2 separate regions of the Homo sapiens genome follow, and region 1 is linked to region 2. Evidence: fine-mapped expression QTL. A gene starts in region 2. The other region holds a variant in brackets. All regions are shown on one strand. Distances are from middle to middle. Region 1 overlaps MIA3 (MIA SH3 domain ER export factor 3). Region 2 holds the start of AIDA (axin interactor, dorsalization associated).

The links. PIP is the estimated chance that this variant, and not a neighbour inherited with it, causes the effect.
Region 1: its variant is the best candidate, but not a certain one, in a credible set for the expression of AIDA in cerebellar hemisphere (GTEx, PIP 0.51).

What each region holds. Positions count from the first base shown.
Region 1 is chr1:222,635,670-222,641,051 of GRCh38, reverse strand. The region is part of intron 6 of MIA3 (MIA SH3 domain ER export factor 3); the gene reads right to left. Among named protein-coding and RNA genes, the nearest start is that of MIA3, 20 kb to the right of the region's middle. The variant T/C (reference allele first, on the strand shown) is at 2,987.
Region 2 is chr1:222,709,397-222,714,716 of GRCh38, reverse strand. AIDA (axin interactor, dorsalization associated) reads left to right here and starts at 2,226. Exons shown (of 10, transcript NM_022831.4): 1 at 2,226-2,509. The coding sequence starts at 2,400. It overlaps BROX (BRO1 domain and CAAX motif containing), which reads right to left and starts at 2,153. Exons shown (of 13, transcript NM_144695.4): 1 at 1,775-2,153. RefSeq lists enhancers at 956-1,175, 1,544-2,458 and a silencer at 2,126-2,345.

The DNA.
Region 1 (5,382 bases), 74 kb after region 2:
TTTGAAATTTTAGCCATTATAGTAAGTGTGTAGTGGTAACTCATTCTGCTTTAAATTGGCATTTCCCTGATAATTATGGTGAACATTTTTAAATGTGCTTACTTGCAATTGGTATATCTTCCTTGGTAAAGTGTAATTTTACTGCATTACATTTTTTTAGATGAATTTTGAGAGTTCTTTATGTATTCTGAATACAAATATTTTATCAGATAGATGCTTTGCAGTGACTCTTTCCCAGTCTGTAGTTTGTATAACAGTGTGTTTTGAAGAGATGTTTTTATTTTGATTAAATCCAAATAATCAAATTTCTCCTTTATGAATCATACTTTTGATGTCAACTGTAAGAAATCTTTGCCAATCCAAGTTCAACAAAATTTTTCTCTTAATTTTTCCTAGAAGTTTTATGGTTTTAGGGTTTACATTTAAGTCTATTATCTGCTTTGAGTTAATTTATGTACATCATGTGAGGTATGGATCAATTTTTTGCATATAAATATCTAATAGTTTTGGTACCATTTGTTGAAAAGACTTTCCTTTGTACATTTAATTGTCTTTCCACCTTTGTCAGAAGTCCACTGTCATACATGTATATTTCCAGATTTTCTATTTTGTTCCAATGGTCTATTCATCTGCTGTCTTACTTACTAGAGCTTTATAGTAAGTCTTGAAATTACATGATGCTTGGGCTATTCTAGGTCCTCTGCATTTTCCATATGAATTGTAGAATCAGCTTGTCATTTAAAAAAAAATCCTTCTGAGATTTTAATTGGGGCTATGTTAATGCAAGTGATCAAATTGGGGAGCTTAACAATATAGTCTTCTGACTCATAAACAAGGTCTATCTCTCCATCTATTTAGGTCTTCTTTAATTTCTATCAGCAATATTTTATAGTTTTTAATGCATATGTCTTACACACTTTTTGCCACATTTATCCATAAGTACTCCATATTTTTGATACTATTGTACATGGAATTTAACTTCAATTTCCAATTGTTCATTGCTACGATATATAAATACAATTGCTTTTAGATGTAAATCTTTATCTAGCAACCTTACTAAACTAGATTTTTTTCTACATCCCACCAGATTTTATGCATGTTGTCTGCAAAAAAAGACAATTTTACTTATTTCCCAATCTGGATGCATTTTATTTCTTTTTCTTGCCTTAGTGCACTGGCTATTGCCTTATAACACTGAACAGATGTAATGAGAGTAGACATTCTTGTTTCACTTCTGGATCTTGGGGGAAAAACATTCAATCATTCACTATTAAGTATGATGTTTAAGTCTTTCATAAAAGTGATTTAAGTTCCCTTCCATTCCTAGTTTGTTGATATATTGTTTTTTAAATTACATAGTAATCAATTTTAGATTTTTTTCAAAGTGGTTTTCTGTGTTTGTTGAACTGAACATATGGATTGTCTTTTTAAAGTTTGTCATTATGGTTAATTACACTGATTTTCAAATGTTAAACAAACTTTGTATTCTTGATGTTAACCCTATTTGGTCATAGAGTATTTTCCTTTTTATATATTGCTGGATTTGATTTGCTAAAATTTTTGTTTAGAATTTTTGTACCAATGTTTATGAGAGATACTGGTCTGTGGTTTTCTTTCTTACTTGTCTTTGTCTTTGCCTTGTTTTGATATCCTGGTAACATCAGCTTCATACAATGAGCTGGGAAGTATTTTCTCCTCTTCAGTTTAATAGACAAGTTTGTGTAGAATTTGTAGTATTTCTTCCTCTTAAGTTTAATAGAATTCAGCAGTGAAGCCATCTGGGTTTTCTTTGTGGAAAGGTTTTTAGCTGTAAATCCAATTTACTTAATAGTCATAAGGTTATCTGTTTCTTCCTGAATGAGCTTTTGCAGTCTGTGTCTTAGATAGAATTTCTTCATCTAAATTGTCAAATTAGTTGACATAAATTGCTCATAATATTCCCTTATTATAATTAACATCTGAAGAATATGTGGTGATGTCTCTCTGATTGCTGCTATTGGTGATCTGTATTCCCTCTCTTCTTTCCCTGTTCACTTTGGCTATAGGTTAATCAGTTTTATTAATCTCAAAGAACCAGGTTTTGGTTACATTGATTTTCTCTCTTTTCCTTTTGTTTTCTATTTCACTGAATTATGCTCTTATCTTCATTATTTCTTTTCTCCTGTTTACTTGAGGATTAATTTGCTTTTCTTTTTCTAGTCTCTTATGGTGGAAAATAAAGTCACTTATTTGAGACCTTTCCTTTTTTTTCTAATATAGGTAGTGCTATACATTTCCCACTCGTTCTTTGGCGACATTGTACACACTTGATATATTTGTTTTCATTTTCTTGTCTTTATTTTTTTTTCTTTTCTTGAGACAAGGTCTCATTCTGTCACCCAGGCTGGAGTGCAGTGGTACAATCTCTGCTCACTGCAGCCTCGACCTCCTGGGCTCAAGCAACCTTCCCACTTCAGCCTCCTGAGTAGCTGGGACTACAGACACGTGCCACCATGCCCAGCTGTGTGTGTGTGTGTGTGTGTGTTTTGTAGAAACAGGATTTCACCATGTTTAGGCTGGTCTTGAAGTTCTGGGCTCAAGTGATCCTCCTGCCTCAGCCTTCCAAAGTGCTGGGATGCCACTGCGCCTGGCCTGTTTTCATTTTCATTCATCTCAAAATACTAATTTCTCCTTTTCCTTTTAAACTCATAAGATGTTCAGAAAGAAGTGTGTCACCTAGTTTCCAAATATTTGGGGATTTTCCAGATATTTCCATTATTCATTTCTAACTTAATTATATTGTGAAGAGAACAGACTTTGTACTACTTGAATCATTTTATATTCATTAGACTTGTTTTATGGCTGATAATATAGTTTATTTTGGTAAACGCTTCATGTGCACTAAAAAGTATATAATATGTATTCTGCTCTTCTTGGGTGGAATGTTCCATAAACATCAATAATGTCAAGTTGGTTAATGATGATGTTCATAACTTCTAGATCCTTA[T/C]TGACTTCCTATTCTATCAGTTATTGAGAAGGGATACTGAAATCTCCAATTATAATTGTAAATTGATCATCAATAAGAATAACTGGCCAGGCATGGTGGCTCATGTCTGTAATCCCAACACTTAGGGAGGCTGAGGCAGGCAAATTACTTGAGCCCAGGATTTTGAGACCAGACTGGGAAACATGGCAAAACCCCGTCTCTACAAAAAATATAAAAAATGGTAGCACACACCTGTAGTCCCAGCTACTCAGGAGGCTGAGGTAGGAGGATCACCTGAGCCCAGAGAGGTCGAGGCTGCAGTGAGCCATGATCACACCACTGCACTCCAGCCTGGGAAACAGGGTGAGACCCTATCTTAACCAAAAAAAAAAAAAAAAAAAATTATTCTTGATTGGATAGAAACACACCAAATATTTTTAAATCCATGACAGCATAATGATTATTAGAAAGAGTCAGAAAAAAACAAAACCCTTTGGGCATCATTTGATAATGCCACGAATGAGTTGTCTAACTCGTTATTTTGAAAACTGTTTAAATAAACAAAAAGAATCAAATATTTACCCTGCCTTAACTATACAAGCCAAATCTCAGTGTAAAGAATACTTGATCATAAGTTTCTCTTTGTAGAAATACCCCAGCCTTTAAATGAAGGAGGAACAATATAAAGAGAATTTTAAAAAAAGAGGGACACCCAGATGTTAAATGCCTCCTGATGGAAGTACATAACATCTCCTATTAAGTATTCTTGACAAACAAAATTGAATCTGAATTTGACTACTGATGCAACTATCAATTCCCAGGAAATATAAAGAACCAGAGAAAAATGTTAAAATACACCAGGGGGATGTAGTCAGCAAAATCTAGACCATCATATACCTTAGAAGCCAAACAAAACTGTTTCTTCAATGAATGCACTGCAATAATAACAGAAAGAACTCCATAGACAGTAACTGGTATGAGACTCACCCTCCCACTGAAAGCAACAAGCAAACTAAACAAAAGATATTTAAAAACTGTTTTTCATATAGAGAACAACAGGCAGCACACAATTGTGACCCCTGAGAGAAAAGAAACAAATAGGTGAGCTCTACAACCTCCCAGCTTTCTACCTGGCGGTACTTTCTTGACTTCAGTGCAGGGATAGGGAACCCAAGCAGAGTACACCAATCTTGCAGAGGAGGCAGAGATTAAAGCTCGGGGAGACTGAGGCATCTGAAATATGCAGGAAAAGGTACCAGAAAGATGGATACTATGGGCTGGGCACAGTGGCTCACACCTGTAATCCCAGCACTTTGGAAGGCCGAGGCCGGTGGATCACGAGGTCAGGAGTTCGAGACCAGCCTGGCCAAGATGATGAAACCCTGTCTCTACTGAAAAATACAAAAATTAGCCGGGTGTGGTGGCGGGTGCCTGTAATCCCAGCTACTTGGGAGGCTAAGGCAGGAGAATCGCTTGAACCCGGGAGGTGGAGGTTGCAATGAGCCAAGATGGCACCGCAGCACTCTAGCCTGGGCAACAGAGCAAGACTCTATCTCAAAAAAAAAAAAAAAAAAAAAAAAGATGGACACTAGGAACAAGTAGAGTTCCAGAAATATGCAAGGAGGTCTCTCCTTCAGCCTCAGCCTGAATTCTAAACAGCTCCTGTGTAGGGTAAGATTCCTTGAGGATGGGCAAAGAATAACTAAAGGAAAAAAGAACAACTGTAAGCTAAACAATTCCCAGAGTTGTCACAGGGCTGCAAGACATTTAAATTCCAGCTAGTCAGAGTGAACTGACACACAAAAAACTATGGCCAATAAGCAGTGAAAAAGTGCTCAATATCATTAATCATCAGGAATTACAATTAAAACCAGAAAGGCATACCCACTACAATGGCTAAAATTTAAGACTGATAATACCAAGTGTTAGGGAAGGTGTGGTCAAATGGAAGTTTCATTAACTGCTGATGGAAGTATAAAATGGTACAGTCACTTTTGGGAATTATTGGGTGATGGTCCCACGGATTCTCTGCTTTTGTATATTTGAAATTTTCCAGGATAAAATGCTAAAATAAATTAAAGTATAACTTCAAATATTTAAAGGATTACTATGTAAAAAGAAAACTAGATTCTATAGAGGAAATCATCTGGAGGAAAATTTGGAGTCAGTATAAGAATGAAATAGGCAACAAAGGAATGTATAGCCTTGCAAGGTAGGCGGCTTACACTAGGAACCGGTGACGCACAGGTCCCAAAATGGCAGGGTTAGAGTACAGGGAATTGCTGTGACTACTGAGAAGTTGGACTAGTAGCTTCTAAGGTCTCTTCCAACCCTAAGATTCCACTAACTATTCATCAATTATTGATCTACGAGTCTGACCTCTGGTATAGTTTTCCCAATAAAGTCAGCACCCCATT
Region 2 (5,320 bases):
TGGGAAGACTGAGGAGGGAGGATCCCCTGAGTCCAGGAGACGTAGGCTGCAGTGAGCCCTGATCTCCCCATGGCACTCCAGCCTGGGCGACAGGGCAAGATCCTATCTCAAAAAAGGAAAAAGGAAAAAAAAAACAAAAAACAAAAACTTGGAACACCACCTAAGTGAGATGCCAACTTAAAAAAAAAATTAAGTTCCATGCCTTCTACTTAAAAAAAAAAAAACGCGCGGTGGCTCACGCCTGTAATCCCAGCACTTTGGGAGGCCGAGGCGGGCAGATCACAAGGTCAGGAGATCGAGACCATCCTGGCTAACACGGTGACTCTACTAAAAGTACAAAAAAAAAATTAGCCGGGCATGGTGGCGGTCGCCTGTAGTCCCAGCTACTTGGGAGGCTGAGGCAGGAGAACCCAGGAGGCGGAGCTTGCAGTGAGCCGAGATGGCACCACTGCACTCCAGCCTGGGCGACAGAGGGAGACTCCGTCTCAAAAAAAAAAAAAAAAAAAAGCAGCATGTCTTGTCTAAATGTCCTTGGGTAGGTAGTGCAGCAGATAATAAGGAGAAAGCCCAGGCGAAGACCTAAACATGGCAATTAGATTCCAGGAAGTAACTGAGAAAAAATTCTGATAAGGTTCATTTAATTTGAAGGCACTAAAAAATTCTGACAATCGACTTTTCCTAGTATTAGAAAATAATGGTGGCTGTACAGTGTATGAAATGCCTACATTAAGTGCTTCCTTTATGCTATTTATTCATGACAAAGCTGGTTTTGAGGAGCACCACATACTTAATGAATAGAGAATACAGTGTGTACCCAACGAAAAACTGAGCAGGTTTATTTAGGACTCAAAACATTTAACGAGTTATTTCAGAAAATATCATCTTCTACACATCTTCCATATAAATTCCGATAGCCTAATACAGCATCTATGTGCCTACAAATAATATCACACTCAGCACTTGAGGCTGCGAAATCTTCCACAAATACTTCTTTTAATGCGGCCTCCTACTTCCTGGATGAAAATGTCTGAAGTTTTGCGAATCTTTACTTCAGGAAAGAAGAGGGTTTCTGCCCCTGCCCCATCTTCTCCCCTTCTGCGACCCGGCGGTCTTCAGTTTTCGGGAGTTCCTAGGGTGGGATAGAAGAACGACACACCCACCCGCAGGGACAAGGGTGCCTTTAGAGCCACCAATACAACATTCGGATCGAAGCTGTAAGCTAACACACTTCCACAAGAGGACTCCCGCTCCTAACAAGGGACCCCCACCCCGGAAGCCCCGAGTCCCCAGAGGAACCTACCTGAGCGCCGCCCCCGAGCTCTGAGCGCCCACTTCCTGTTTACCACCCAGCCTCTTCCTCCCGTGCCCAGTCCCGTTCGAGGCAGCGGGCGGCGACCGTGCGCACGCGCCAACACTTGAGTTCCCCTCTTTCCAAACAGGCATTTTTGTGGAAAGCCGATACTGTCAACCCGGGAGAGGTGGCCAGACAACGGCCGAACGAACCCCAGTTTAGCTTGTATTATAAGCTCTCCAATGACCAATGGAGATGCGGGGCAAGGGGATTCAGCGGATCTAGCTGTTAATGCCACTGATTTGTGGTGACCAATATGGATTTTCTTTCTGTCGTTTGTTTCAAGGCACTAGAAGGAGACTTTTGGTCCACTGTCCAGGGGTCTATGGAGACTAATGTAAAAGGGGGTGATCCTATTGCTTGAGACTCCGGGGAAGTAGCGGGGGATATTACTGAGAAACACCCATCCTCTGACATACTTACCAAATTTCTCAGAGTCGGTTCAGCAGTTCTTCTAAGGGAAGAAGGGCAATATATCGGAGTCCACAAGCGAGAAAAAGAGGGAGTCGGAGAACCGAGACTACAGAACCAGGGTGACGGAAAACCAGGACGGCGCCAAGCCGGAGTCACGTGACCCGGCGGCCATGATAGCTACCGAGGCGGTAGTGCGCGCAGCTCAGGGGCGGGTATTGCCGCGGCGTTGCAGTCCCCTCAAAACGCTTCGTTCATCATCCCTTTCTAACTTCTCCCTCGGCCTTCCTTTTGAGCTATGGTCTTTTTCCCAGACAGGAAGAGAAGAGTTGCCCCTACCTCCGGAGCCGAGGGAGAATGCCGCAATAGCGATGGCGGCCCTCGGCGCAGTGGGGCGGCCTCAACCTAACCCGGGGCGGGGCCTCGGGGGCGGGGTCTCGGCGGGGCGGTCGCTTTGGAGCCGCAAAGTTTGGCTGTGGCGGCAAATGGGCTTGGGCGGCTCCTCGGCGGGTGGCGGTGGTGGCCGTAGCGGTTCCTCCTGGCCCTGTTAATGTCGGGGCCAGGCCGGGGGAGGATGGCGCCCTAGAACCCGGCCTTGCTGGGGTAGGGGCGGGAGGGGACGGGGTGGGGACCGGCCATGTCGGAGGTGACCCGGAGTCTGCTGCAGCGCTGGGGCGCCAGTTTTAGGAGAGGCGCCGACTTCGACTCTTGGGGCCAGCTGGTGGAGGCGATAGACGAGTATCAGATGTGAGTGACTAACCGCGGGAGCAGGCCAGACCGGCTCCAGTCGTGCGCCTCTCCCTTGTTTCTGTCGGTGTCTCTCATCACCGTATCTGCAGCCAAGGCTTCTCAGGGTGGGGCTCCGCAGGCACTGGGGCTGAGATCCCTCGCCACCAGCCCCAGCGAGGCTGCTCTAGGGACAACGGCTCCGCTCTCTGGGGTGACTCGCCTTCTTCCCTCTCCGCCTCCGCAGGGACAGTTCCATTCAACAGGTAGCCCTTCTTTCCTGGGGCGCAGGCCCCAGCAGGCTATCTGCTTAGTTCCTTTCCACCGTCTCGCGGGTCCCCCACTTGGCAGTCAGTTTCCTTTCCTCCTCCTCTCCCAGGTTGCTTTTCCTCGATTTCCTTTTGAAATTCTCTGAGGAATACTTGTGTGTTCTCCGCCCACGTTCCAAGGATGAGTGGCCTTGCTCTGTGTGTGTCTTCCTTCTTCCATGCGTAGGAAAGGAGGGAACTGTTTGCGATTGAGGGGATGGGGGGGAGCCCAGGAAGCAACGAGGGCCAGGGATACCTCTTCTGCCAAAAGAAGGGTCTCCTCTCGCGCTCCTTCTCCACCCCTCTTTCTGGTGAGCCGTGTTTTCAGAATTCCACCTCGATTTCGTTTCGGTTTCTGGGACTGTTATTTGGTAGGCTGTGAGTCCCACCCACCCCCTCGCTCGGTTGCCTTGGGTGGAGTCCGCGCAGGATGTGAACCGAAGAGAGCAAAATGTGAATTAATGGACCACGCACAGGAGCTCCACGCCCTCCTTGGATCCCTCCTCCTTTTCCTGTATATAATGTATAGCCGCAGGGTACAAGTGAGTACCAGTTTCCTTGAGCAACCTAAGACCAATTTCTTGCCCTTTCTGGTTTCCACAGAAAACTTCAGGGTTGTCTTAAAAAATAAAAGACAAGATTTATATACACATAAAACCTTGCTTAGGTTTTTGCACATTTTACTGAACTTAAGAACTGTCTGCCAAAATGCTATTGTTTGCAAACTCGCCATTAATTATTCTCTGTTTAAAGCAAGTTATTGTTTGAGATTTCACTGAGTATGAAACCACGTATGAGTAGAATACCCCCGGCCTCCCCCACCCCCCATCCGCCCCCGACACACAACGATTTCTGGCAAGAATATACGCTTGGTACTTGGAAGATCTAAACTCTTATCGTCTCCCCGCAATAGTTATTTGTTTTTATCTATTAAGATAATTTAAATGTGTAGGTACTGACTTTGAATCGCCTGTAGCTTCAAAAAGCTCTGACAAAAACCCGTGCTCTGAGCCATTTTGCGATGTGTAACAACTACTAGCATTTGTTTTGCACTTTCACATGATTTCATTTGCTCTTGCAATAACCCAGTGAGAATATAATTATTCTCATTTTACGAAATGAGGAAAACTGAAGCTCAGGTTAAACAGATTACTCAGGTCACAAGCTGATACCACTGAAATCTGGGATTTAAAAAAGAAAATCCAAATCCTGTCTCTACTACAGAGTGCTTAAGATGTACTGAGAGAGTAATTCTGTAAGTGAATTAGACAAATGATAAGATTTTCTTTATTACTGGAGAACACACCCTTCCATACTGTAGCCAATTAGTAAGCACCTATGTATACCCATTCTGTATATTAACTAATATTGCATAGTTTGAAATAGAAAGCCATCTCTTACTTGTGAGGTGGTGAGACCTAGCAGCTGTTGACACTGGGCAGCCGACTTCACAATGGAAAGTGAAGAATACCATGTCCAATTGAAATTACAAAGGAAAATTGAATATGCAAGCTGTTTAGTTTGAATTTCTAGGAACATGAAGGTGAGGGTGATAGGCATGTGCAGATCCATTGTTGGACCTCAGTACTAACCATTGAACTTCATGATTCTAGTAGTCCTCAAATTATAAAAACTGCCAGGGTCAAATTTCAGTGAAAACATGTAATGATTGGCTTAAATTCTGTAAACATGTAGGCTACATATAAAATGAGGTCAAGAGTTTAAAATTACCTAATATATCCAGAAATGAATGCAAATTATCTTTTTCATTTGAAATATCTGGGAGGAAAGGCTGCAGCAAAATAGACCAATTGGGGGCCACTATAATGATGTAAACAAGAATTGACAGGATTTAGTTACTGACTGGATGTCGAGGGTGTAGAAGGAGGAAGAGTCTAGGATCGTTGGGATTTCTAATTGGGTAGGCAGCAATCTTATCGCCATACAACACACAGGAGCTGCTTTATGCGAGGGATGTAGGGGGAGAGATAGTGCATATCTGTATTCTCATAATGTAATAATACTGTAGCTTAAACAATTTCATGACTCAACAACTAAGGGTTAGGGATACAAAGATGAATAAAATTTGATTTCTGCCCTCAAAGCACTGAGAAGCCAATGGAAGATTTTAGAGTAACTGGGTGTTGCAATTACGGAAGTATGAAAAGAGTAAGTGCTCCCACATTCCTTGCTATTTCCTGGAACATAGTTCTGCCTTAGGGCTCTCGTATTTTTTTTCTGGGGCACTTTTCCCCCCATTATCTGTTTGGGTCACTTTGTCACCTCCTTCAGGTCTTTGTTCAAATATCCTCAGTGAGGCTGTCTCTGGCCACCCTGTTTAAAATTGCAAAGTCTCTTGTCCAACCCCACTGCCTCTATCTCAGTTTCACACCTCCTGCTCCCCATCCTGCTTCATTTTTTTCATTTTTTTCCATGGTACTTACCACAATCAAAAATATATTTTCTTTTTTTGTTTGTTTTGTTTTTTCTGAGACAGAGTCTTGCTCTGTCACCCAGGCTGGAG